Linked DNA regions of Homo sapiens. The protein of the gene in region 6 purifies or fractionates together with the protein of the main gene of each other region. This does not show direct contact. Each region holds a gene or a part of one and is shown on either strand. Other genes may lie near its edges.

What was found.
Region 1: the proteins of CD1A (region 6) and GATB purify together in Homo sapiens (affinity purification with mass spectrometry; one large-scale study listed by BioGRID and IntAct). This does not show direct contact.
Region 2: the proteins of CD1A (region 6) and DSC2 purify together in Homo sapiens (affinity purification with mass spectrometry; one large-scale study listed by BioGRID and IntAct). This does not show direct contact.
Region 3: the proteins of CD1A (region 6) and ARV1 purify together in Homo sapiens (affinity purification with mass spectrometry; one large-scale study listed by BioGRID and IntAct). This does not show direct contact.
Region 4: the proteins of CD1A (region 6) and CLSTN3 purify together in Homo sapiens (affinity purification with mass spectrometry; one large-scale study listed by BioGRID and IntAct). This does not show direct contact.
Region 5: the proteins of CD1A (region 6) and SEL1L3 purify together in Homo sapiens (affinity purification with mass spectrometry; one large-scale study listed by BioGRID and IntAct). This does not show direct contact.
Region 7: the proteins of CD1A (region 6) and ENTPD6 purify together in Homo sapiens (affinity purification with mass spectrometry; one large-scale study listed by BioGRID and IntAct). This does not show direct contact.

What each region holds. Positions count from the first base shown.
Region 1 is NC_000004.12:151,705,508-151,709,007, reverse strand, and holds part of GATB (glutamyl-tRNA(Gln) amidotransferase subunit B, mitochondrial isoform 1 precursor), read left to right. Parts: intron 1-906; coding exon 907-1,020; intron 1,021-3,500. UniProt on the Homo sapiens protein: Allows the formation of correctly charged Gln-tRNA(Gln) through the transamidation of misacylated Glu-tRNA(Gln) in the mitochondria. The reaction takes place in the presence of glutamine and ATP through an activated gamma-phospho-Glu-tRNA(Gln).
Region 2 is NC_000018.10:31,081,922-31,085,421, reverse strand, and holds part of DSC2 (desmocollin-2 isoform Dsc2a preproprotein), read left to right. Parts: intron 1-2,361; coding exon 2,362-2,496; intron 2,497-2,998; coding exon 2,999-3,184; intron 3,185-3,500. UniProt on the Homo sapiens protein: A component of desmosome cell-cell junctions which are required for positive regulation of cellular adhesion.
Region 3 is NC_000001.11:230,977,793-230,981,893, reverse strand, and holds the start of ARV1 (protein ARV1), read right to left. Parts: upstream 2,801-4,101; 5' UTR 2,789-2,800; coding exon 2,615-2,788; intron 1-2,614. Other genes in the region: TTC13 (tetratricopeptide repeat protein 13 isoform a precursor), read left to right, coding at 3,064-3,334. UniProt on the Homo sapiens protein: Plays a role as a mediator in the endoplasmic reticulum (ER) cholesterol and bile acid homeostasis. Participates in sterol transport out of the ER and distribution into plasma membranes.
Region 4 is NC_000012.12:7,147,371-7,150,870, forward strand, and holds part of CLSTN3 (calsyntenin-3 precursor), read left to right. Parts: intron 1-1,601; coding exon 1,602-1,828; intron 1,829-2,152; coding exon 2,153-2,323; intron 2,324-3,173; coding exon 3,174-3,319; intron 3,320-3,500. UniProt on the Homo sapiens protein: Postsynaptic adhesion molecule that binds to presynaptic neurexins to mediate both excitatory and inhibitory synapse formation.
Region 5 is NC_000004.12:25,845,989-25,849,488, reverse strand, and holds part of SEL1L3 (protein sel-1 homolog 3), read left to right. Parts: intron 1-1,624; coding exon 1,625-2,195; intron 2,196-3,500.
Region 6 is NC_000001.11:158,253,095-158,257,223, forward strand, and holds the start of CD1A (T-cell surface glycoprotein CD1a isoform 1 precursor), read left to right. Parts: upstream 1-1,329; 5' UTR 1,330-1,575; coding exon 1,576-1,633; intron 1,634-1,989; coding exon 1,990-2,256; intron 2,257-2,909; coding exon 2,910-3,188; intron 3,189-3,691; coding exon 3,692-3,970; intron 3,971-4,129. UniProt on the Homo sapiens protein: Antigen-presenting protein that binds self and non-self lipid and glycolipid antigens and presents them to T-cell receptors on natural killer T-cells.
Region 7 is NC_000020.11:25,198,712-25,202,211, forward strand, and holds part of ENTPD6 (ectonucleoside triphosphate diphosphohydrolase 6), read left to right. Parts: intron 1-3,500. UniProt on the Homo sapiens protein: Catalyzes the hydrolysis of nucleoside triphosphates and diphosphates in a calcium- or magnesium-dependent manner.

The DNA.
Region 1 (3,500 bases), on a different chromosome or scaffold from region 6:
TTGTAAATGAAACGAGGAACAGAGAATCTGAGAGCTTTACTTTGTAGGGTGCCAAATGTGATTCTTTCTTACCTACATCTATTTGTCTTGGGATTTTTCTCTCTCTCTCTTCCTCAAGAGCCTTTTAGTCCTCCCCACACATTGCCTGCTTCTTTAGGGCTTGTTGCTCCTAATCTGAGGGGCCTCCAGGGTCAAAGAAGGTCCTCCCAGCATGGGGTCAGCACCTCTCTGAGTCCCACCACAGACTCCTGACTTCGTAACAGTGCTGTCTGTCTGCTGTAGCAAATCGTTAGAGCAGTCAGGAAGGATTCGGAGTCATGTTTGTGGAAGGAAGAGATTATTACAGTACCTGGAGGAAGGAGGAGGGGGGAAAGCCCAGATTTCAGTTCTTGCCCTTGAGCTGCAAATTCTCAAGGACTCTCCTCTAAATCTCCTGGAATCACTGTTAGAAATCCACATTCCAATGGAGAGCAGTGTAGGGTTATCAGATATATGAGGCCTTTCCTCCAACTCAGCTCTGACACTTTGAAAAAAAACTTCAGTATAAAACTGCAGAGTCAATCTCCATTTTAATAGTTTTGTTTTTCTTGTTTAGCACAAAAAAATTAGATCTCTCCAGCTGGCGAATCTAAAACTTCTCTTCCATATGTGCATAAGCACACACATCTGTATATGTTCACATGTACAGGCACACACTGTAGATGCCTCAGGACTGTAACCCCTCTCGAGTGGCCAGAAGTACCAGCCACGACCTACTTCAGAACCAACCGTGCCTTCTCTGAAGTTAGGCTGCTATAACTAAACAGCAGGTAGAGTTAGATGCTGCTTCCTTTGACACTCCCTGCCTTTAAAAGACTATGTCACCTCAAAGAATTTCTAAGGAGTTGTTTTCTTCTCTCCTTCCAGAGGGCCAGTTGAGAGTGGATGCCAATATATCCGTGCATCACCCTGGGGAGCCTTTGGGCGTTCGAACGGAAGTGAAGAATCTCAACAGCATCAGGTTCCTGGCCAAAGCCATAGGTGAATGCCAGCTGCCGCTCCTAGTGTCCTTCTTCCTATTGTTTCTCTCTTGCTGGGTAACAAACAACCCAGAAACTTAGTGGCTTACACAAGAACTACTTTCGTTTTCACTGGTCCGTTCTGTTGGTCCTGTGTCGGCTCACTCATGTGGCTGTGGGAAACCGGCAGGCCAGCTGAAGCAGAGGGTCCATGGTAGTCGCTCTCATACCTTGGGGCCTTGATGCTGATGTCTGCTGGGCTTCTCCATCCATGTGATCTTTCTTCATGCACTTGCCTAGCCTTGGCTTTCTTATGAGGCAGTGGGAGCATTTCGGGAGGATGAAGGCAGAAGTGAGTCCTAAGCTGTAGACCTCACACAGTGTCACTTCCAATGTGTTCTATTCAAAGTAGATTGAGGCCAGGCACAGTGCCTCATGCCTATAATCCCAGCACTTTGGGAAGCCAAGGTGGGTGGATTGCTTGAGGCCACGAGTTCAAGACCACCTGGGCAACATAGCAAGACCCCATCTCTATAAAAAATTAAAAATTTAGCCAGGCATGGTGGTGAGCACCTGTAGTCCCAGCTACTCAAGAGGCTGAGGTGGGAGGATCACTTGAGTCCAGGAGTTTGAGGTTGTAGTGAGCTGTGATCACGCCACTGCACTCTAGCCTGGGCGACAGAGCAAGACTCTGTCTCTAAGAAAAAAAAAGAAAATTACATTGAATTCAAAGCAGACTTGAGGGGAAATTAGACTCCACCTCTTTATCAGAGGATCCACAAAAGATCATGGCTGTGTTTTACCATTTACCACCTTCTTTCTGACCAGCTTGAGATTTACTAGGTCATGGTTGTTCATTTTAGATTGACCATGGCTTGACCTAAATGGTCATTATGTTTTCCTGCTTTTTATATTCTTTTTAACTGCTAGATTATGTGCCCATGCAGTGAAGTAGTAGTCTTTCTGGAGCACACACTGTGGGTATTTCTTTGATGATAAATGTATAATAACTAAAATAGTTTAGCAAGATAAATATCTGAGCAGTCCCGTAGATATAGGTAACTGTGAATTCAAGGGGAGGACCTCAGAGGACTAAAAAGATTTTTTAAAACCGAAGCTATCTAGAGAGGAAGAGGGAGGGATGGAGTTTGAAGTGCACCCCTTCAAGGGTGCACAGAGACCAAGACAACTGAATCTGTTGCCAAAGTTTTGCTGTAGCCAAAATGTTTAATAGAGCCCTGGTCTTGTCAAGAAAAGTATTAGAAACAGTACAGAAAAGATGATTCTAGTCTTGTATTAGACCTTATTGTCCTGAACCTGAAGTGAATCAACCACTCAATGAAGACAGTCTTCAGGAAAAAGGCATTAAAGTGGTCAAACGGATAGCTTATGGGAGCAGAGAGGGAAGGGATAGGCTCCTATATGAAGGCAGACTAAAGATGGTGAACTGTTCTGCATCCGGAAAGGGACATAGCCCATGTTCCCAAAGCCATGAAAGGTTTGAGTCAGGGAAAACCCTTATAAGCCAAGTTGGTGAGGAGGAAGCCTGGAACAAATGGAGGAAGTTCCACCTCCCCCTGTAGGTAGTGGGCTGGGACCCGTTATTTTAAGAGGTGGTGATGGTAACCTTAAAAAAGCAGCCCAATTTTAGGTAGAGTCATCCATGAGTTCTGAAGGAGACCCCTAACCTTCTCCTGTCCTATGAAGAACTCTTTGGAGGACCAGTCTGAGGGAGAAATCTCCCTGTGGTCTGACTCAGAGTGGAAGAGCCAAAGCTTTACTATGGGTTCAATTCTCCAAGCCTGTGATTTTTCACCACCTTTTTCTCCCTATGTCAGGCCATTTAGCCATCATCTCGTGTCAACCAAAGAGATCACTGGAGTTGGGGAGAGATGGGGAGCAAAAACTGACACGTTTTGCTGTTGCTGCCTCTTAGCAACTCAGATAAAAGGGTTTAGGTTTGGGCAAGGGAAGGTAGTACATGGTGGGAGGGAGAGTTAAGGTGGAGGCTCAAGATATTTTCATAAAGCAGTTTAGCAGGCTGGGCTTAGTGGCTCATGCCTGTAATCCCAGCACTTTGGGAGGCCAAGGCAGGAGGATTGTTTGAGACCAAGAGATTGAGACTAGGCTGGAAAACATAGTGAGACCCCCATCTCTCAAAAAAAGAAAAAAAAAGCAGCAACAGCTTAGCAATTGTGGTTGTGTTTTGATTCCCACAGCCTCCCTCATTTGATGCTGAGGCATGGGTCCTTGGATCTTAATCATTTGGGGTCGTGGGTCCCTCTGAAAAGATAATGTAAATGCTGGACCCTCTCTCCAAAACCTGCACATATGCACACAACCCACACTTTGTGTATAATTTTGGGGATACCAGAGCCTTTGAAGCCCATCCCAGACTCCCAGGGTAAGGGCCCTGGGTAGGCAGCAATCTCAGACCGAGATATTGGGCCCAGCCCCACTTCTGCCAAGTCATGTCATCTGCATGGGGTTGCTTAATCTCTC
Region 2 (3,500 bases), on a different chromosome or scaffold from region 6:
ATAACAGTAAAAATTGTTACACTTTTTCTTCTTTTTGTACTTACAAAATAAGTACATTTTCCAAAACAGTACAATTTAGTGGGAAGAATGACATTGTTATGCATTTTTCCAAATGTTTTTAGTATTTTGCTTAAGACAGGTGGATTCTCATATCTCCTTCTGCATTTAGTCTGTTACAATATGTAGTTTTAGCTGAAGCATATATAAAGGCAATCTGACATGATATAAAATTAGAAAAGAGAGTAGTATTTTGATGATAATTACAGATCACTGTGGATATTATTCCTTGATACTACATGAATACTTGATAAGGAGTAGCTTGTTTCCTAAATGTTTTTGGTAATGTGGACTCTGAATCCTCAACAATGACCTTTTGTACTTTATTACGTTAAAATCCATTGCTCTATCTTACACTTTGAGTGACCATTTTACCAGTACATCATTCTATATTGTGCATTGGTCATTTGGAAAATATTGGTTCACCAAGTAATGCAGAGCTTCCAAATATTGACACATTGCATTAAATAATATCAAAAAGATCACCTCTTTACTTCCATTGATATCACATTGGTTGATAAAGGTTTTCCAAGCTTCTCATTTTTGTTTGAAATCTCCAATTTATCATTGGCAACAAATAGTTGTTTTCCCTGAAGTGACAGATTAACTTTATGTTTTACAAAATACTTTCATAAAACTATAGTCTGCATAGCCATAGATGTCTATGTGAAAATAGCATTCTATGGAAAAAAAAAAAAAGCAAAAACTCAACAGCTTGTTCAGCTCCTAAATCAAACAATCACAGAAGTGCTTTTCTTTGAATAGATTCTTCTGAAATAATCAGTTGAAAACACTTGTCCAGTGAAGGTGTTTATCCAGTGGTGCTCTCTAGTAACTTTTTGACCTCAGGATTCCGGTTTTCTTCAGTTGCCTACAACCTTTTAGTCCCTTTAAACATCAGAATTTCTCTTCCATCTGAAGATAGCATAAGTTAATACTTAGGGTATCAAACTTCATTTCCTTGTTTCATTAGCCAGTTAATTATTTCCAATAAATTTTAGTTCACTACAAACAAAATATGTATTCCTTCTTGAAAGTACAGTAGCATGATGTTTTAAAATTTTTCAGTTGAAATAAGGCCATTATTTTTCAAGTCTACACATGTGATTGGTTATGAGGGAGGAGTAAATCTGGAAAATTATGTGTGTTAAAAGCAGGAAGATCAAGAGAAACTTTAGTTTTATTTTAGATAATGCCTAAGGAAAAGAAAGTTTCAGAGATGATGGAATTAAGGGAAGAATCTTTGTAAGAGAAGGGTGAACATTCTAGGTAGAAGATGAGGATAGATTTTAACATGCTATTTTGTCTTATGAAAAGAGATAAATTAGGTAGGAAAGGTAAGCATCACCATCTTATAGAAGAAGAAACCTAGACAAAGTGAATTTTCCAATTGCCCAAGATTGTGTCTCTTATTTTTGGAGTTGGAAATAGAACCCAAGTCTCCTAATGCTCAGTCCGGAAAGCATTATTACTGTATTGTTTTTAATTCTCCCATATCTCAATCACTTATGATAAATGAAAGTTATAAGGAGAAACACTTTAAAATATTTAAATGCTTCAGATGTTTAAAAATATTTTTTAAGGTAGTGATGAGTTTTCAACAATATCTGATAAATTGAAAGCCTTAAGAGCCAGATTCTATTTTCCACAGAAAGAAAAAAACCTACATAGCCCCAGACCTTTATCTTCATGTCAGTTTAGATGATCTCTTAAATGTAACATAAACCCTTAAAATCTATATTTTTTGCAGGAAGAAATTTCATTTTATTGTTTTGTTAAAAGACTATTTTAAGAGTCATTGCTGTCTATTTTTTTGAACATAAGAATGTACTTTGGCTAGGAGATAAAGGTTTTGATTAATTACCAGGCAATTTTAAATGCACTTGTGGCAAATAGCTCTTCTTTTTCTGTTGAATAAAGACAAAACCAATTGAATCTATATTCTGTAAGTTAATAGCACTATAAATTTGAGAAACTATTCAATTTTCATAAATTGATTAAAAATTCCTAGTGTGATTCTCCTGCCTCGCTTGAACCCGGGAGGCAGAGGTTGCAGTGAGCCAAGATCACACCACTGCACTCCAGCCTGGGCAACAGAGCGAGACTTCGTCTCAGAAAAGAAAAAGAAAGAAAAGAAAAGAAAAATTACTAGTGAGAGAAAATTCTTCTAATACACGAATGCTGTGAAATGTAATAATGCACTTCTTAAATTCTTAGTGCAAAAAAATTATGGAGTGTAAAGTAAGATTTCAATTATAATGTTGGTGCTTTCCCCCAATAATTAAATTCTTTTTTTGTTTTCAGTTAATTGACAAGTACCAGTTGAAAATAAAAGTACAAGACATGGATGGTCAGTATTTTGGTCTACAGACAACTTCAACTTGTATCATTAACATTGATGATGTAAATGACCACTTGCCAACATTTACTCGTACTTCTGTAAGTGTATGATATTAATTAAAGAAAAATGTATAGACCAGTTTTAATTGTTTAATATGCACATCTCTGGCCTGGCGCAGTGGCTCACGCCTGTAATCTCAGCACTTTGGGAGGCCGAGGCGGGCGGATCACCTGAGGTCAGGAGTTTGAGAACAGCCTGGCCAACATGGTGAAATCCCGTCTCTACAGAAAATACAAAAATTAGCCGGGCATGGTGACAGGCACCTGTAATCCCATCTACTCGGGAAGCTGAGGCAGGAGAATCGCCTGAACGTGGAAGGCAGAGGTTGCAGTGAAGGAAAAGAAAAAAATGCACATCCCCATCCACCCCTCATGATTTCAAATGAAGTGCCCCAGTGACATTAAAAGTTGTATAGTGCTAGGGTTTCAAATCATGTAAACATAGTACTTTGGAAATTAGAAGAGTAGGATTTACTTCACATCGTGTTCAATTTTTGTGAGAGTTACTAACGAAATTTTTTGTTTGCTTTTATTATTTTAGTATGTGACATCAGTGGAAGAAAATACAGTTGATGTGGAAATCTTACGAGTTACTGTTGAGGATAAGGACTTAGTGAATACTGCTAACTGGAGAGCTAATTATACCATTTTAAAGGGCAATGAAAATGGCAATTTTAAAATTGTAACAGATGCCAAAACCAATGAAGGAGTTCTTTGTGTAGTTAAGGTAAGAATAAATTAGAACATTATTTGTAGTTTATAATATCATAGAATAGCATGCTAGAATTTAATGGAAAGAAAGGAATTCTGATAAATGTAGAATAAAATAGGTATATAAGTAAATGCAAATGCTCTGTTCTTCATATACAATGGAAAGAATATATTAGTTTTTGATAATCTTTTGTTTAGGTATTTTTTTTTTTAAAAAGTCCATATAATACAATATCTATTTTGTAACCAATATCTTTAAATGGTTCAAAAACTAGCACAGCTTTGATGCCCCTGGGACAGTGCCAGACTTTTCCTAGCCCAGTTTTTCTGTG
Region 3 (4,101 bases), about 73 Mb from region 6:
GTGCTCCAGGCATTGTGCAAAGGCCTTGAGGAAGGAACCTGCCTGGTCTGAGAAACACCAGGATGCCAGCGGGACTGCCGGTAAAATAAAGAAGGGAAAGAGTAGCAGGAGACTCCATAGGGCCTTATAAGCCAGTTCAGGGATTCAGGCCTTAACTCTGAGATGGAAAATCATCAGAAAGTTTTGGTCAAAGAGATGATATGATCTAAATTACATTTTTAAAGGATCAGTCCCTGGCTACTGTGTGGAGAGAAGACTGAAGAGGTACAAGGATGATGTAGGGAGACCAGATAGGAGTTACAACAATAGTTCAGGTAGACATCATGGTGGCTTGGATGAGGATTGTAGCAGCAGGAGTAGTGAGAAGTAGTGGATTCTGAACATAATTTGAAGACAGAACAGGATTTGCTGAATACCTGAATATGGGATGTGAGAGGAAGAGTAGAAATAGGGATGACACCAAGGTTTCTTGGTCTTAGGAGTTAAAATGGTAAAGTTGCCATTAACTGTGATGGGTATATTTGAGCTGTCTATTGAAATCCAAGTGGAGAAGTCAAGTAGGTAGTTGGACATTTAAGTCTGGAGTTCAGGGAAGAGGTTCAGGGTAGAAATATAAATTTGGAAATTGTCAAAATTTTGACGGTATTTAAAGCCATGAGACAGAATGAGCTCTTCAAGGGAAAGCATGCAGACAGAAAGAGGCACGATGACTATGCGTTGGAATACACCATGATTAAGAGGTAAGGGAGGTGAAGCAAAAGCAGAAAGGAGATTGAGGGGTAACAGCCAGTGAAGTAAGAAGACAATAAGAAGAGCACTGAATCCTGGGAAGCGCACACAGCATTTCAAGGAGGAGGAAGTAATGAGGTAAAATGCTGCTGATCATTAACTGAGAATCGACTACTGGATTTAGCAAAGTGGAAGTGGTGATCTTAACAAGAACAGTTTCTAATGAAATGCGGGTGGGAATGTGACTAAAGCAGGTTCAAGAGAAACTAGGAAAGGAAATAGACAGTACAAACATATCTTAGAAGGTCTGCTTTCTAATTAAGAAGAAAAAGAGCAGAAGCTAAAGGGGGAAGTGGCAGCAAGTGTATTTTGTTGGTGGTGTTGGTTTTTTTTTTTTTTTTGATGGAAGAAGTAACAGTATGCATGCTGGTGGGAATGATCCAGCAGAAGGCAGAAGAAGACAGTACAGTAAAGAAATAACAAATGCTAGTATTGGGTTTATGTTGTTGCAAACCTGGTGGAAGTTCTCTTCTGTTTTCGCAGTGGCTCATGCCTGTAACCCCAGCACTTTGGGAGGCCGAGGTGGGTGGATCATTTGAGGTCAGTTCAAGACCAGCCTGGTCAACATGGTGAAACCTGGTCTCTACTAAAAATACAAAAATTAGCCCGGCGTGGTGGTGCAGGCCTGTAATCCCAGCTACTTGGGAGGCTGAGGCAGGAGAATTGCTTGAACTTGGGAGGCAGAGGTTTTAGTGAGCTGAGAGTGCCCCACTGCACTCCAGCCTGGGTGACAGAGGGAAACTCTATCTCAAAAAGAAAGAAAGAAAGAAAAAAAAAACCGAAATAAGATTGCCAGAAATCATGAAAGGCCTATATGAGGTTAATCGTCACAAATTTGTTTTTCCCCAGCAACGTACTGCTGCATGGGTACAGGGACAAGACCAGGCAATATGTTGGATTTAACAAGGGTTGACATTTTGACAAAAGAGGGAAAGTACTTGAGAGAGGAACAGGAAATTGAGGTTGTATGCATCAGAACGTTATGTGGTTGGCAGATTATACAGGTATACACTCAGTTTGTCAATTCTCTTGTATATTACTACAGACCATAATTTACTAAAGAGATTAGAAAATCACAAGATCTGAAATGGGACAAAAATGTACTGTCTATTCTGTGACAGGTTCTTTGCTAATTAATACCCCCAAAGAACCTCCAACTTTGTAGACTCTTTAAACATAAGATTATTCTCTCTGCCGTAAAATAAAGAAGGGAAAGAGTAGCAGGAGACTCCATAGGGCCTTATAAGCCAGTTCAGGGATTCGGGCCTTAACTCTGAGATGGAAAATCATCAGAAAGTTCAAGGTATTCTACGAACACCTTGAAATGAGAATTTTTACTTCCTCACTTTTGGGTTTTGTACCACCAACGTCTAGCATAGTGCTTTGTACACCGTAGACATCCAATAACGACAATTGATGAAACCTTTAAAAAGCATCGTAGGTGAATTCAACATGGGTTGTGGAGGGTAAGGATGGTACCATCTCTCTGTCAAAGGGAGAAGAGCTAGAAGGAAGTAGCTTTGGCATGAACCAAAATGTCAACCTAATTGATCTTTAAATTTCTCTGCAAAATGCCCACATCTACCTCTGTCTGTCGGTCCGGTCCGTTCGCCGGCTTAGGTCATATCACCCAAATATGCCCCAGTATGAGAAAAGCGCTGTCGGGTAGCTGAGTTCTCTATCAGTACAGATATTCATGCAAAGATCCCGGGCGGGAATGTCAACTACCGAACTAAAGACTGTATCAGAGGACCCTGCTCCTCGCGGTCCCCAAATCCCGCCGCGCCATTTTCTTCTCAAGGGCACCCCACACCTGACAACTCACACAGATGGTTATCTTCAGCACACCGTGGTTATAGTCTCGGTACAACTCTTTGGCCTCCTGGTTGCATTCGATGCACCTGTACTGGCAGGAGGCCGAGGCAGCAGTAGGAGTCGCTGCCACCCCATCCACGTTCCCCTTCCCCTGCTGCAGGCCGCTCCGCCCGCCGTTGCCCATTTCCACTCAACTGCAGTCCAGAACTTCCGATTCTGTGGAGGGTAAGACGTCAGACGCCAGACCGGAAGACTTGCGCCGCGCGGGCTTATTGGGATTCGTAGTCCCGGCACCGGCAAGGCGGCCCCGGGCTGGCCGAGCTGGGACTACCATTCCCAGCACACAATGCTTCTCCCCTTGTCCCGCCCCCTTGCCACGGTCCACCTGCCCGCCGTAGGTTAGAGGCGGGGAGGCCTGAGAGCCGGGCAAGGGCTGTCGCGCATGCGCCTTGAGGGAAGATGGCACCTGCCGGCTGCTGCTGCTGCTGCTGCTTCTGGGGCGGCGCTGTGGCCGCCGCGGGCGCCGCCCGGCGTGTCCTGCTGCTGCTGCTGCTGGGGGTCCTGTCCGCCGGGCTGCGGCCAGGCGCCCTGGCCACCGAGCACTACTCGCCGCTCTCCCTGCTCAAGCAGGAGCTGCAGCACCGGCAGCAGCAGGAGGCCCCGGCGGGCGGCGGCGGCTGCAGCCCGCAGTCCGGGGACTGGGGGGACCAGTACTCTGCCGAGTGCGGCGGTGAGTGGGCGGCGGCGGGCGTCCGAGTCGGCCGGGGCGGCGGGGCAGCGGGGCTGGGGTCCCGGGCCGGGGTACGGGTCGCCCGGGCCTCACGCCTCCGGCTGCGGCGCGCGATCCGCGGGAGCCGGCTCGGCCAGGGGTCCTGGCGGGCAGCTTCCCGCCGCTGCCACCCACGCCGCCGCGCGCCCTCCTGCAGCCGCCTTTGGGCAGGGCGGCGAGTCGAGAAATGAGCTGACAGCATGCTCCTGGGGCCAGGGCGGCCTCTCTCCTGAGTCTGAAGCAACTGTTGGAAGGGTGGCGGAGGAGATGGCAGGTGGCCCGGGGCAGCCCTGTTCCCGCCGCCGGCCTCCCGAGGATGCCGAAGGGGCGAGGGAGGGGCGGGCGGACGAGCAACCAGCCCGGCGGCTTGCGGAGCCCGCCCCCGGAGGGAGACGCCTGGCACATCTTAGGCCTGGAAATCAGGCTTCCTGACCTCCCGGGTTAATGTCTCGTATACAACAGTTCCTAAAAATTGGATCCCTGGAATGGAAAAAAAGAGCAAGCCCATCTTATCTGCTCGTTGACATCTTGCTTCCAGTTGTTTAAGATCAACCTGCGATCTGTCAGGTGTCTCCCAGAGGGAAAAAAGGCCCCTGCAGGCCTTGAGCCTGTGTGTCAGTGCCGTGTGTGTATTGGAGCTACGCCAGCTCATTCATTAAGAATGGGCGCTATTGGCTTCAGTTTAATAAATCATAGCAGATGCCTCTGGGACAAAATACGTGTGTACA
Region 4 (3,500 bases), on a different chromosome or scaffold from region 6:
CCTGGGCAACAGAGAGAGACTCTGCCAAAAAAAAAAAAAAAAAAAAAAAAAAAAATCAGTGGACCTGGAAGGAGAAGAATGATTTAAGCCTAGACTCTGGTTTAAGCCTTGATTGTTTCTTTTTCTTTTTCTTTCTTTTCTTTTCTTCTTTTTTTTTTTGAGATAGGGTCTCACTCTGTCGCCCAGGCTGGAGTGCAGTGGCCTGATCTCATCAGCTCACTGCAACCTCTGCCTCCTGGGCTCAAGTGTTCCTTCCACCTCAGCCTCCTGAGTAGCTGGGACTACAAGCATCTACCACCACACCTGGATAATTTTTGTATTTTTTGTAGAGACGGGGTTTCACTATGTTGCCCAGGCTGATCTCGAACTCCTAAGCTCAAGGGATCCTCCCGCCTCAGCCTCCCAAAGTGCCAGGATTTACAGGCATGAGCCATCATGCCCAGCCTGAGCTTTAGGCATTTTACAGCATAGAAATGAGGTTATAATATAATGAAATAATATGGGCCAGGTGCGGTGGCTCACGCCTGTAATCCCAGCACTTTGGGAGGCCGAGACGGACAGATCACCTGAAGTCAGGAGTTCAAGACCAGCCTGGCCAATATGAAGAAATCTCATCTCTACTAAAAATACAAAAATTAGCCGGGTGTGGTGGCATGCGCCCTATAATCCCAGCTACTTGGGAGGCTGAGACAGAGGAATCGCTTGAACCCAGGAGGCAGAGGTTGCAGTGAGCCAAGATCGCACCATTGCACCCTAGCCTGGGCAACAAGAGTGAAACTCCATCAAAAAGAAAGAAAGAAAGAAAGAAAGAAAGAAAGAAAGAAAGAAAGAAAGAAAGAAAGAAATGTGGGAAAATGCTTCATAAACTGGCAAGGGCTATTGATTGTGAGGTGTTGTTATTACTGGTAAAGGTGGGGCTAAATGTGATCCTGGGAGCATCACTGCTGAGCAGCTGTGCTGTTGGTTGGTCTGGCTCAACAGAGTCCTCTAAGGATAGCTTGTCCTGATGCCTGGATCCTCAAGCTTCATGAGACGGTGGATCTAGGTCCAAGGTGGTCAGATGATCTCACCTACCAAAGTGTGTTTCCCCGATATTGAAGGGAATGAAAGACACACCAAAGAGGAGGACATCCTTTGATAGATGTCCACATTCTACTTTTATTGTTGAATAATTTTGGGCGCATATGTGCCGGATAGTATACTGAGTCCATGTACTTTTAAACTGCTGGATAAAGAACTGTGTGTGTATATATACCTGTTTGTCAGTTCAGTTTGCTTTGTTTTTCATTAAAATAGCATCTATAGGTACTCCATAATCCTGGGGTAGGGCATTGATGGTGTGATCACACCCACAGGTTGGGATTACCTGACCTTCTGTCCTCGACATTTTCCTTGGTGACATCCTACCAGGAAAGGATATGTCCCCCTTCAACTGCTGTGGGGGTTGGGATGCAGAGGCATGACCCCCTTTCTTCCCCTGCCCCTTCCTGACATGAGATGCTCTATGATAGAGGTAGCTGGGGCGGGGAGTGAAACAGAATGTGGGTTTTCGGGGAGGAAGTGTTGGGGTCACATGCTGCTTCTCCTGCTTTCTTACATAGGTGCTTCAGCGAAGAGTCCTGCGTCTCCATCCCTGAAGTGGAGGGCTACGTGGTCGTCCTTCAGCCTGACGCCCCCCAGATCCTGCTGAGTGGCACTGCTCATTTTGCCCGCCCAGCTGTGGACTTTGAGGGAACCAACGGCGTCCCTTTGTTCCCTGATCTTCAAATCACCTGCTCCATTTCTCACCAGGTGGAGGCCAAAAAGGATGAGAGTTGGCAGGGCACAGGTAAGGACGACTTCGGGGAGTAACACCATCCAGAGAACCAGCCAGTGTCTGGAGTCAGAGTGTGGGAGAACTCCTGGGGCTGGAAGCAGAAAGCGACTCCATCCTGTGTTTGTTTGACTGAACAACTTACCTTTAAGAAGGAGAGCAAGTGGAAAACACGTGGGTGGAAATGAATTGTTGCATAATGATATTCTTGAAAATGATGCTGACTTCCCTCTCCCTGGCCCTGGAAAGGGAGGGAGAGTGGTGATGAGGGCATGGTTGGGTCTCAGAACCTCCGTGGGCCCTTTGGCTCTGACCCAGACCCTACTATCCCCAACCCAGTGACAGACACACGCATGTCGGATGAGATTGTGCACAACCTGGATGGCTGTGAAATTTCTCTGGTGGGGGATGACCTGGATCCCGAGCGGGAAAGCCTGCTCCTGGACACAACCTCTCTGCAGCAGCGGGGGCTGGAGCTCACCAACACATCTGCCTACCTCACTATTGCTGGTCAGTGGGGCCTGAGGGCCTGTCCTCTGTGTGTGTGTGCCCCTCCCAAAAAGTAAGGGCCTAGGAAGCCCAGAGGGTCCTCCTTCCAGGTCCAGGGATGTGGACAAGTGCCGTTTTGCATTTTCCTAGCCTGGAAGATCCTCTGGCTTTGATTGTCCCTAGGGAAGGTGTGCTGGGTTTAGGCTCCGAATGCTTCTGTCTTCCTGCTCCTCTCCATAGCCTGGCTCACCTCCACTTCTGGTCCCACTCCTGTTTCCATTCAGGCTTCTCACCTTCCTCTCCTCCTTCGGCTCATCTCTGCCCAGCTTTCTAACCCTCTAGCTGTCTGTTTGTTACCGGTCATCTCTGTTGTTCAGCTCACTCATCTCACGTGCACACCAGAGCTTTACAAGAAGTACTCATCTCTTAGTGAATAGTGGGAGTGATGATTTGGTAGTTTCCAAAGGAAGCCAGGAGGGAGAATGGAGAAGATGGAGATAATCAGTTCCCTTCTATTTCCACTCCTTTCCAGGGCTCACTGAGGACTTCTGTATTTTCCTCTTTCTCATATTCCCTCCTGCTTGCCATCTCCCTTTCTGTCTTTCAGGATGTCTTTATCTCCTTCTTTCCATTCCTCCTCAGAACCTACAGAGCAGGAAATGGAGCCTTGATCTCTCCATCCTAGTTAGTCAGAGTGGGCAGGGATGGAGGGGAGCATCCCTCCCTTCGACCTCAGGTCGCACTTCTGCGGAGATGGGGCTGACCTGCTCTACAGCTTGTGTGGCGTCAGCTGGTGGGAGTCCAGGAGAGAGGGTCCTGCCCAGGTCCTGCCTCCACTGGCCCCTGCCCTGAGGTGCTTCCTCATCTCCAGGGGTGGAGAGCATCACTGTGTATGAAGAGATCCTGAGGCAGGCTCGTTATCGGCTGCGACACGGAGCTGCCCTCTACACCAGGAAGTTCCGGCTTTCCTGCTCGGAAATGAATGGCCGTTACTCCAGCAATGAATTCATCGTGGAGGTACCCAGAGAGTCTCCTTCCTTCCACAGTTACCCACCCCCAGAAAGGAGCTGAGGTGGCATGGACTCAAAATGTTAGTTGGTGGGCATGGACATGGCAGCGTGGAGGGCTGCTGGACCTTGCAGTGGGTGGAGGAGAAGGAGATGGGGGCAGTAGTTAGGAGATGGGGCTGGGGTCTAGA
Region 5 (3,500 bases), on a different chromosome or scaffold from region 6:
TGTGAGTTTGACTACTCTAGGTGCTTCATGTAGGCGGATGATATAATGTCTGTTCTCTTGTGTCTAGCTTGTTTTCCTTAGCCTCATCTCCTCAAAGTTCATCCATTTTACAGCATACATCAGAATTTCATTCCCTTTTATGGGCTGAATAATATTCCATCCCATGTATATACCACATTTTTTCTACCCATTCATCCATGGATGGACCCTTGGGGTTGCTTTTGGCTAGCGTGAGTAATGCTGTTATGAACACGGGTGTACAAACATCTCTTCAAGTCCTTGCTTTAAATTTTTGGGGTGTATATCCAGAAGTGGAATTGCTGGGTCTGATCATACCATAATTCTTTTTTGAGATGGAGTCTCACTCTGTTGCCCAGGGTGGAGTGCAGTGGTGTGATCTTGGCTCACTGCAACCTCCACCTCCCGGGTTCAAGTGATTCTCCTGCCTCAGCCTCCCAAGGAGCTGGAATTACAGGTGTGCACCACCTTGCCCAACTGATTTTTGTATTATTAGTAAAGACAGGGTTTCACCATGTTGACCAGGCTGGTCTTGAACTCCTGACCTCAAGTGATCCACCCACCTGGGCCTCCCAAAGTTATGGGATTGAAGGCATGAGCCACCACGCCCAGTCTGATCATATGATAATTCTGTGTCTAATTTATTTGAGGAACTGCTATACTATTTTCCATAGTAGCCACACCATTTTACATTCTCATTAAGAGTGCATAAGGGTTCCAGTTTCTCCACATCTTCACCAACACTTGTTATTTTCTCTCTGTGTGTATGCGTTGTGTGTGTTTAATAATAGCCACCCTAATGGATATGCAGTGGTCCAAAGTGACCTTTTTCTATTGTGTTTTGGATACTTGAATCACAAAGTCATATTTAGGAGAGCTCTTAGCACTCACATATCAGCACCTCATGCTCAAAACCTTGCATTGATTTCATGACCAGATAAATAAACATTCAGCTAAAATCCTTCTTGGTGCATGTAGCATTGTCTGTGGTGAAAGAATCAGACAACACAGCCCATCGTCTGAGCTTACTTGTGTGTGACCAGGAGCAATAGAAGCCTCTTGCCTGTCCATATATCATGCAGGCTTGCCCTGGCTTCAAACTTATGGGAGAAAAAGGGGCCAGGTTGGCATCCCTGTTATGTTCCCTCGAGGGTGCACTTTTCACTTTTCTGCCACCCTTTGATTTGGTAGTGTCTGACCCACCATTTAAAGTCAGGACAATGGTTTGAAAATGTCTGAAGCTGCATTGTCTCTGTTTTATTCTAAGGCAGGTTCCCTTGCTACTGGATTTGTTGTGAACCAACTTCTGCCTTTGAAAACCAACTCTGGAATTATTGCCATGTAGATGTGACAGTCACATTCTGATCAGCAGATGTTACTGTGTCTGGGGAGAGAGTTTAATGTGGCCTCATCTTCCTTTGTATTTGTGTGTTGGTTTTTCCCCAATTCTTCAGTAGTGGTTTTGACATCTTTTATCTCCCGCATTCATTCATTGCTTTATGTAGATTGATATTTTTTTATCCCAGGAAAATAATGATTCAAGTATCTGTTATGATGAGGATTTTTAAACTTTCTGTATTTCTTACTTTCTTTTTCTTTTTTTCAGAATGTTGTACCATCTTTGGGTAGGCAGACTTCCCTGACGACATCAGTGATACCCAAAGCTGAGCAGAGCGTGGCTTACAAAGACTTTATTTATTTTACTGTCTTTGAAGGAAACGTTCGCAACGTTTCTGAAGTCTCGGTTGAGTATTTATGCTCTCAGCCTTGTGTTGTCAATTTGGAAGCAGTTGTTTCATCTGAGTTCAGAAGTAGCATTCCCGTGTACAAAAAAAGGTGGAAGAATGAGAAACATCTTCACACCAGCAGGACACAAATAGTACATGTGAAATTTCCAAGCATTATGGTTTACAGAGATGATTATTTCATCAGACATTCCATCTCTGTATCTGCAGTGATAGTACGCGCCTGGATTACTCACAAATACAGTGGCAGAGACTGGAATGTTAAATGGGAGGAAAACTTGCTCCATGCTGTAGCAAAGAATTATACCCTCCTGCAGACCATCCCGCCTTTTGAACGCCCTTTCAAAGATCATCAAGTGTGCCTTGAGTGGAACATGGGTTATATTTGGAACCTTCGGGCAAACAGGATTCCACAGTGTCCTCTGGAAAATGGTAGGTCATCTATCTTGCTAGGAACCTAATTCTCATTTTTTCAGATAGCCTGTATCATGATCGAATGGCAAGAGAAAATTCTTCTATTAGCGAAGGGGGATACAGGGAAGATGGAGGGACACAATGAGTCTGTAACTTTGGAGTTTGAAGACAAAAGGAGAAAAATTAAAAGGGGAAGAGAGGAGAAAGATTAGGAGAGAGCAGGACCAAAGATGAAAGAACAGAACAGAGGAGCTGAGGAAGGTGGACTTTGAGAGGGTTAGATCTGCTTTAAGCTGGAAAGGAGTATTCATGCCACCGAAACAAGGATTGGGAAAATCTTCCCACTCACCTTCCAACAAGCCTGCTAAAGTTTCCTCTTTTTTTTTTTTTTTTTTTTTTGAGATGGAGTCTTGTTCTGTTGCCCAGGCTGGAGTGCAGTGGCGAGATCTCACTCGGCTCACTGCAACCTCCGCCTCCCAGGTTCAAGCAATTCTCCTGCCTCAGCCTCCCGAGTAGCTGGGATTACAGGCACCCACCACCATGCCAGGCTAATTTTTGTATTTTTAGTAGAGATGGGGTTTCACCATGTTGGCCAGGCTGGTCTCAAACTCCTGACCTCAGGCGATCTGCCTGCCTTAGCCTCCCAAAATGCTGGGATTACAGGTGTGAGCCACCATGCCGGGGCCTCTATTATTTTTAAGCAGAGTGTTTTATCCTGGAGGAGATGAGAACCTAAAGGAACCCTTCCAACAGAAAGGGAGGTTGTACCACAGAATGGTAACCTCTGGCTGGGCCTGATTCCTGTCCTGCCACTTTCTATCTCTGTAACCTTGGAAGTCTCTGAGCCTCAGTTTTCCTATCTGTAAAATGGGGATAACAAGCAGTTCCTTCAGAGCAGTGCTGTGAGGACTAAATGAGATGTGATTGCTCAGCACATCATCAGCACTCAGTGAGAAGCTGTGATGATGATAGAGTCCACACTCTGCATTTTATCCTAAATGCCACATGGTCACAGCCTCAGCAGGACCAATCCCGGAGGCTCCAAGGCCCTTCTGCAGCCTCCCTTAAGCCGTGGGGCTGGAGATCTCAGGCATGTGCTGAGAGGCGGCACTCTGAAGTTCTCTCCATTGGTGCAAGGAGCGCCTTGCTCTGTGGATGCCGAGTGCCTGCCAGCTCTTCTTCTGCCCCCTCAGTGGGGAGCCCTCCCCACACATGCGCCCAGTTGTTTCCTCAACTGTGGCCCTAGGACCACCTGTGACAGAATCACAAATGCTTGTTGCAAATGCAAATTCCTAGGCCCAGTCCTTCATCTACTTAGTCAGG
Region 6 (4,129 bases):
TCAAGAAAAAAAATTTTTTCCCCCTAAATTAGCTTCAGATACTTTTTTTTTGAAAACCAAAAAATAGTAAATAGCCCAGACACATTTATATGGATGATATCTACAAAGCACAAACATATATTTAGAAGCCCTTCAACAGTTACAAGCAGCGTAAAAGAGGAATGTAAATGTGTCCGGCAAAGACTCATTTATAACAAAACAACCCTGAAACATCCAAATAGGACTAATAAAAAGGGATCCTGGGATAAAGACTTTGGAATACTCCATTAACTTCACTGCTCACAAGTTCTGACTAGTTTCTTATAAGTAATAGGACATTTATAGCAGGATCTTTTATGTAAATCTCATGCCAGTAACTTGTACTTTTATCCTAAATAAAACTGTATGAGATTCTCATCTCACTACATAGGGTTACAAGTAACTTTTATGATATCTTTAAAAAGTTTCATGTTGAATATCACCTCCATAATTAAAAAATGGATGCATAGACTGAATTCATTCATTCATTTGACAAATATTCACTAAGCACCTACCACTTGTGAGATACTCTGTTAGGTGGGGATACAGTATGATAACTGTATGGAACTAACACTCCAAGTCAAACATTGAAGTCAAAATTCTGGGCTGGCGTACATTAGTTAGGAGCCCCCATTTTAGAAAATATTATTTCAAGCAGGCCTTGTTTTTATCCAGAGAGTGTATACAGTATAATAAAACTCAGTACACCAAGATTTATATTTCATGGCGTGTTTTTCTCCCTAAGTAGAGAAAAAGCTCCTTCAGTAAAGTGATTGTGTTGTCAACCACTGCATATTCTTAAGTGTACCAAGATGCTTGACTCCAGGCAGGTGCTAAGAGAGACTGTTGGGTGAGTGAATGTATATCAATGAAAATCAAACAGAGGAAATTTTCTTTATATGTTTTAGTGTTCCTGTGGTTTTTTTTTTTTTTTTTTTTTTTTTTTTTTTTTTTTTTTTTGTGATGGTTACTGGCTCTTCTCTAAGAATAATGGAGAAAAGGTGTTAGTTTGTACTGTCGCACAGGGCAGTCGTAGGAGACTCTGAAAAAGCAAATAAATCAATGTTAAATCAGAAATGTGAATGTAGTAAGGGGCTGAAGAGACAGGGGAAGAGAATACATGGGAAAATATTGAAAAGGACAGAGTGATCAAAAAGAGCAGGGACATGGGAGCATTGGGCAGCACACTGGGAGCCATTTCACTTTATGCTCTTATTGTATGATTGAGAAAAAAATGTCCTTAGTGGTTAAGTGGCTTTTCAATGCCACATCAGACTTGTTCCATAGCAGTTGAATTAGGGGAAGGTGAATAAGTTGGAGGTTGGTGACAAGGAGAGAAGCTGGAACAGAGAGGAGAGTCAGAACCAGAGGGAAATGAGAGACTGAGTAGGCATCTCAGGGTTTTTGAAGGAGTGGATTTTCTTTGTTGCAGTCAGGGGAGGTTTGTCTGTTGGCTGCAGAAAGAAGTCAGAATAGAGATATCGTGGGGTAGGTTTGTTTGGAACAGAAATCAAAGACCAATTTTTCTGAGAGAAGGAAATAACATCTGCAAATGATATGCTGTTTTTGCTACTTCCATTGTTAGCTGTTCTCCCAGGTGATGGCAATGCAGACGGTAAGAACTCTGACAACTGCCCAGTTGGGTGGTGGGTGAAGGTCTCTCTCTCTCTCTCTGTGTGTGTGTGTGTGTGTGTGTGTGTGTGTGTGTGTGTGTGTGTGTGGTTTCCCTAGCATATACCTGGAAAGTGAGAGTGCCAGGCTGGTTCCATTCTGACTATCCATGACTCCAGGTCCCTGAGCTCTTATGAAGGTGGTTGATAAGGCATGGGACTGTGTGGCAAGTGAATGTCTGCTAAGATCATGATGGATCCCCTTTTCTCCAGATTCTGAGTTCCCGCACTCTGGCACCTTTCTCTCTCCATCCTCTTTCTCAATGTCTTTCTCCCCATTCTATCTGTTCTTTTGTCGCAGGGCTCAAGGAGCCTCTCTCCTTCCATGTCACCTGGATCGCATCCTTTTACAACCATTCCTGGAAACAAAATCTGGTCTCAGGTTGGCTGAGTGATTTGCAGACTCATACCTGGGACAGCAATTCCAGCACCATCGTTTTCCTGTGCCCCTGGTCCAGGGGAAACTTCAGCAATGAGGAGTGGAAGGAACTGGAAACATTATTCCGTATACGCACCATTCGGTCATTTGAGGGAATTCGTAGATACGCCCATGAATTGCAGTTTGAATGTGAGTTCAGTTTTCTCCATGGAGAGTGGTGAGGTGGGAGAGAGGGGTTGTCTCAATGTTTCTTATTCCTTTAGGAAACAGCCTGACTCTCTTCTGTATCTTATTCTATTCTTTCCACCATAAAACTGCAATTGCATACTTTTGGGCAAGGGCTATCATCCAGACCTTAATTCTCCAAACACTTCTGCTACTTATGAACTCCTCTCTCATTGATTGCAGGGTTGTGCATTATTATCTTTTCTTACAGGTATCCCAGGACCACCCTTCTGCCTGCCCTACAACCAGATACCTTCAGCTTTCTCACTTTCTCATTCATTCTCTTCAGCAGTCTCTCTATATATACTCAATTGTAACCCATTGCATTTAATTCAACCTAAGTTGTTATAATCCCAGTTCTCTTACACCAGGTCCTTGCTCACCCACAGCATTCACATCACCTTCTTTGACCAGTTTGCCCTCTTCCTCATGTTATTAATCTTTTCCTCCACCTACAGCTCCCACCAATTCCTCTTTCTCTGAATCCCTGACCAAACCAAATTTTATTCCATTATGTCAAACCCTGCACACTTCCCCCTTCTGCTTCTATAATCTTTGCTTCTACTCATTTCATTTTATATTTTTTTCTCCCTCTTTCCTCTATTTCATAACCCCAGATCCTTTTGAGATACAGGTGACAGGAGGCTGTGAGCTGCACTCTGGAAAGGTCTCAGGAAGCTTCTTGCAGTTAGCTTATCAAGGATCAGACTTTGTGAGCTTCCAGAACAATTCATGGTTGCCATATCCAGTGGCTGGGAATATGGCCAAGCATTTCTGCAAAGTGCTCAATCAGAATCAGCATGAAAATGACATAACACACAATCTTCTCAGTGACACCTGCCCACGTTTCATCTTGGGTCTTCTTGATGCAGGAAAGGCACATCTCCAGCGGCAAGGTCAGTCCTGCACTCTCCCTCCAAGAAGTTTTGATTTGAAAATCATACCCTTCCACCACCTCCTTCCAATTTAGAATAAGGAAGAGCCACCCAGAAGTGGGAAAGGCTGGGTGCAGTGCCTCACATCTGTAATCCCAGTACTTTGGGAAGCTGAGGCTGGAGGACTTCTTAAGGGCAGGAGTCCCAGACCAGCCTGAGCAACAGAGTGAGACCAGTGTCTCTAAAAAATAAAAATAAGTTAGCCAGTCATGGTGGTACACACCTGTAGTCCCAGTTACTTAAGAGGCTGAGGCAGGAGGATCGCTTGAGCCTAACAGTTTGAGGTTACAGTGAGCTATAATTTATAATTATGCCACTGCATTGCAGCATAGTGACAGAGTGAGACCCTGTCTCAAAAAAAAAAAAAAGAGAAATGGGAACAATGTGTCTATCTAAACTTCTAAACTGTTGTGGAGATATGAAACTCCAAGTCTGTATTTGAATATCTTTTCTGTCCTTTGCAGTGAAGCCCGAGGCCTGGCTGTCCCATGGCCCCAGTCCTGGCCCTGGCCATCTGCAGCTTGTGTGCCATGTCTCAGGATTCTACCCAAAGCCCGTGTGGGTGATGTGGATGCGGGGTGAGCAGGAGCAGCAGGGCACTCAGCGAGGGGACATCTTGCCCAGTGCTGATGGGACATGGTATCTCCGCGCAACCCTGGAGGTGGCCGCTGGGGAGGCAGCTGACCTGTCCTGTCGGGTGAAGCACAGCAGTCTAGAGGGCCAGGACATCGTCCTCTACTGGGGTGAGAAAAAGCTAAGGCCCAGGCTGGAAATGCCAGGAAGTGGACCTCAGGCATAGAGGGAGGGCAAGCTGAAAATTTTAGGATTTTAGGGATTATAGCCCAAACATGAATAAAAATAGATAATCTAAGAAATGGAAATGTTGAAAATGAGGGCCCTGT
Region 7 (3,500 bases), on a different chromosome or scaffold from region 6:
GGAACGGACATTCCTAGTGCCACGTCTCTTCTCCCAGTCTCAGCTGACGTTGCCTTAATGTGCATCATTCCCAGCCCCAAGCCTGTCACCTCTCATAGGGTCCGTCCTATTTCTGGACCAGCCCCAAACCTGTCACCTCTCATAGGGCCTGTCCTGTTTCCCACTGATGTCCCGCTGGCATATCAAACTCAGCATGTCAAAAACCTGATCACTGCTGCCTCCTGCCAAATGGCCCCTTCCCAGATGACCTGTTTCAGTTCATGGCCATCACCCAGTCCTGTGGCATCTATGATGCCTGCATCTTCCTCCTACTGCCCGTTTTCCCCCTCAGTACACTGCTGAGCCATCAGCAGACCCCCTTCAACAGGTGCTGGCTGAGCAGCTGCTGGGATCTGGTTTTGTGTTGGGTGCTGGAGGTTCTGGGATGGGGGCTGGTCCCTACTCCTGGAGTAGGCGTCATCTAACCAGAGCCAGAGGGGCCTAGAAGAACTGCACATGTCATGTGCTGTGGAAATGGCAGAGCAGCCAGCAGCACAAGGGAGGAGCTCCGCCAGCACATTTCAGCAGGAAGAACCTTAGTCAGGCATGATCTGTCTCCTTCGTTGAGAGAGTAGGGCGTGAGTGTGATCAGAATTGTAAAACGTTTTGTATTTGACACAGTGGGTGGGCCCTGCCCTCTTTATCCCCATCCCTCACCCCACAGAGTGCCTTAAGTCCGATACCCACAGAACTTATTTCTGTTACCTGCCTGGCCTAGCCATTGAAGGATTTTAGAAGTTGCCATAAAATACACATAACACAAAAATTAGCAACATAATCCTTTTTAAATGTACAGTTCTGTGGCATTAAGTACATTCACAACCACCATCACCATCCGTCTCCAGAACTTTTTCATGTTCCCTGACTGAAACTCTTTACCCAATAAGTCCTCCTCACCCACTGCCCTCAGCACCTGCCCTTCTACTCTCTGTCTGTGTGATTTGACAGCTCTGTAACTCATGTAAGTGGAATCCTACAATATTTGTCTTTTTGTGACTGGCTTATTTCACTTAGTGAAATGCCTTTAAGGCTCATCCATGTTGTAGCACATGTCAGAATTTACTTCCTTTTTAAAACTGAATAATATTTCATTCAAAATTCAGTTCAGCTCTAAATTGAATTTTGTGTATCCATCTGTCGATGGATGTTTGGATTATTTCTCTCCTGTCTGTTGTGAATAATGCTTCAGTGAATGTGAGTGTGTAGATATCTCTTTAAGATCCTGATTTCAACTCTTTTAGAAGTGGGATTGCTGAACCATATGGTAGTTCCAGCTTTGATTTTCGGAGGAAGCTCCATGCTGTTTTCCAAGGCAGCTGCACCATCTGACTTTCCCACCAGCAGCGCACAAGGGTTCCAGTTTCTCCACATCCTCACTAATACTTGTTATTTTCTGTTTGTTTGATAGTGGCTGTCCTAATATATGATGTGATAGCTCATTGCAATTTTGCATTTTGCTAACGATTCATGATGTTGAGCCTCTTTTTGTATGCTTTTTATCTGTTATTTTTTAAACAGATTGCTATTTTTGTGGTTGACTTTTAAGAGTTCTTTATATATTCTAATTATTAACCCCTTTCAGAGCAGATGTACTATTTACCTGTTTTCTCCTGTTCTGTAGGTTGTGTTTTCATTTTGTTGATTGTTTCTTTTGCTGGGTAGAAGCCATTTAGTTAATGTAATTCCATTTGTTTATTTTTGCTTTTATTGCCTGTGCTTTTGGTGTCGTATCTAAGAAATCATTGCCAAATTCTTTATTATTTATCTTGGTGGATTTTGTGTTCAAGAATTTGTCCATTTCATCTAGGTTATCCAGTTTGTAGGCATACAGTTGTTCGTAGTACTCTCTTATAATCATTTTTATTCTGTAAAATAGGTAGTAATGTCCCCTCTTTCATTCCAGATTACAGCTATTTGAGTCTTCTTTCTTTATTCCTTAGTCAGTCTAGCTAAAGGTTTGACAGTTTTGTTGATTTTTGAAGAATCAAATTTTAGTTTCATTTATTTTCTCTATTTTTCTATTCTCTATCCTCCTGTAATCTTTATTATTTTCCTCCTCCTTTTTTACTTTTTTCCTCCTCCTTTTTTCCTCCTCCTTTTTCTAGCTTTATGTTTAGTTTGTTCTTTTACTAGTTACTTAAGGTGTACAGTTAGGTTGTTTGAGCCCTTTCTTCTTTTCTAAAGCAAGTGTTTACAGCTGTACATTTCCCTATTGGCACTGTTTTTGCTGCATCCCATAAGTTTTGGAAGGTTGTGTTTTTGTTTTCACTTATCTCAAGGTATTTTCTAATTTTCATTATGACTTCTTCTTTGACTCTTCAGTTGTTTAAGATTGGGCTGTGCTGAATTTCCACATAATTGTGAATTATCCAGTTTTCCTTCTGCTGTTGATTTCTGGTGTCACCCCATTGTGACTGGAAAAGATGCTTTGTATGGTTTGGATTGTTTAAAATGCATTAAGGCCTGTTTTGTAGCCCACCGTCTGGCGTTGCATGCAGGGCGCTCCGTTACACTCTTGCTCTGTAGTGTCGTTTGAGTCCTCTGTTTCTATATTGATCTTCTGTCTAATTTTTCTGTCCATTATTCAAAGTGGGACATTTCAGTCTCCTAGTATAATAATATTACTATTATTGATAGTTGTCTATTTCTCTTCAATTTTATCAGTGTCTGGTTCATATATTTAGGGGTTTTGATGTTTACTGTGTATATGTTTATAATTGTTTTATATTCCTGGTGAATTGACTATTTTATCATGATATAATGTACTTCTTTGTCTCTTGTGACAGTTTTTGACTTAAAGTCTCTTTTGTCTGATATTGGTACAGCAACCCCTGCTCTCCTTTGGTCACTCTTTGAATTGACTCTTTTCCATTCTTTTACTTTCAGCCCATATGTGTTCTTAGATCAAAAGTGAGCTTCTTGTAGATAGAATATACAGCTGACCTTTGAACAACATGGGTTAGGGATACCAACCCCTCACCTGCAGTTGAAAATCCAAGTGTAACTTCAGTCTAGAATGCAGTGGTGTAATCATGGCTTACTGCAGCCTTGAACTCCAAGGCTCAAGTGATCCTCCCACCTCAGCCTCCCCAAGGAGCTTGGGACTACAGGCGCACACCACCATGTCCAGCTAATTTTTTTATTTTTTGTAGAGACAGTGTCTCCCTATGCTGCCCAGGCTGGTCTCAAACTCCTGGGCTCAAGATATCCTCTCGCCTCCGCCTCCCAAACTAGTAGCCTACTGTTGAAGAAGCCTTACTGATAACATAAATAGTTGATTAACACATAGTTTGTATGTTATATTACTATAAGGTAAGCTAATGAACAGAAAATGTTATTATAATAAGAAATCATAAGAAAGAGAAAATGTATTTGCTATTTATTAAGTGGAAGTGGATTATCATAAAGGTCTTCATCTTCATTGTCTTCATGTTGAGTAAGCTAAGGAGGAGGTGAAAGAG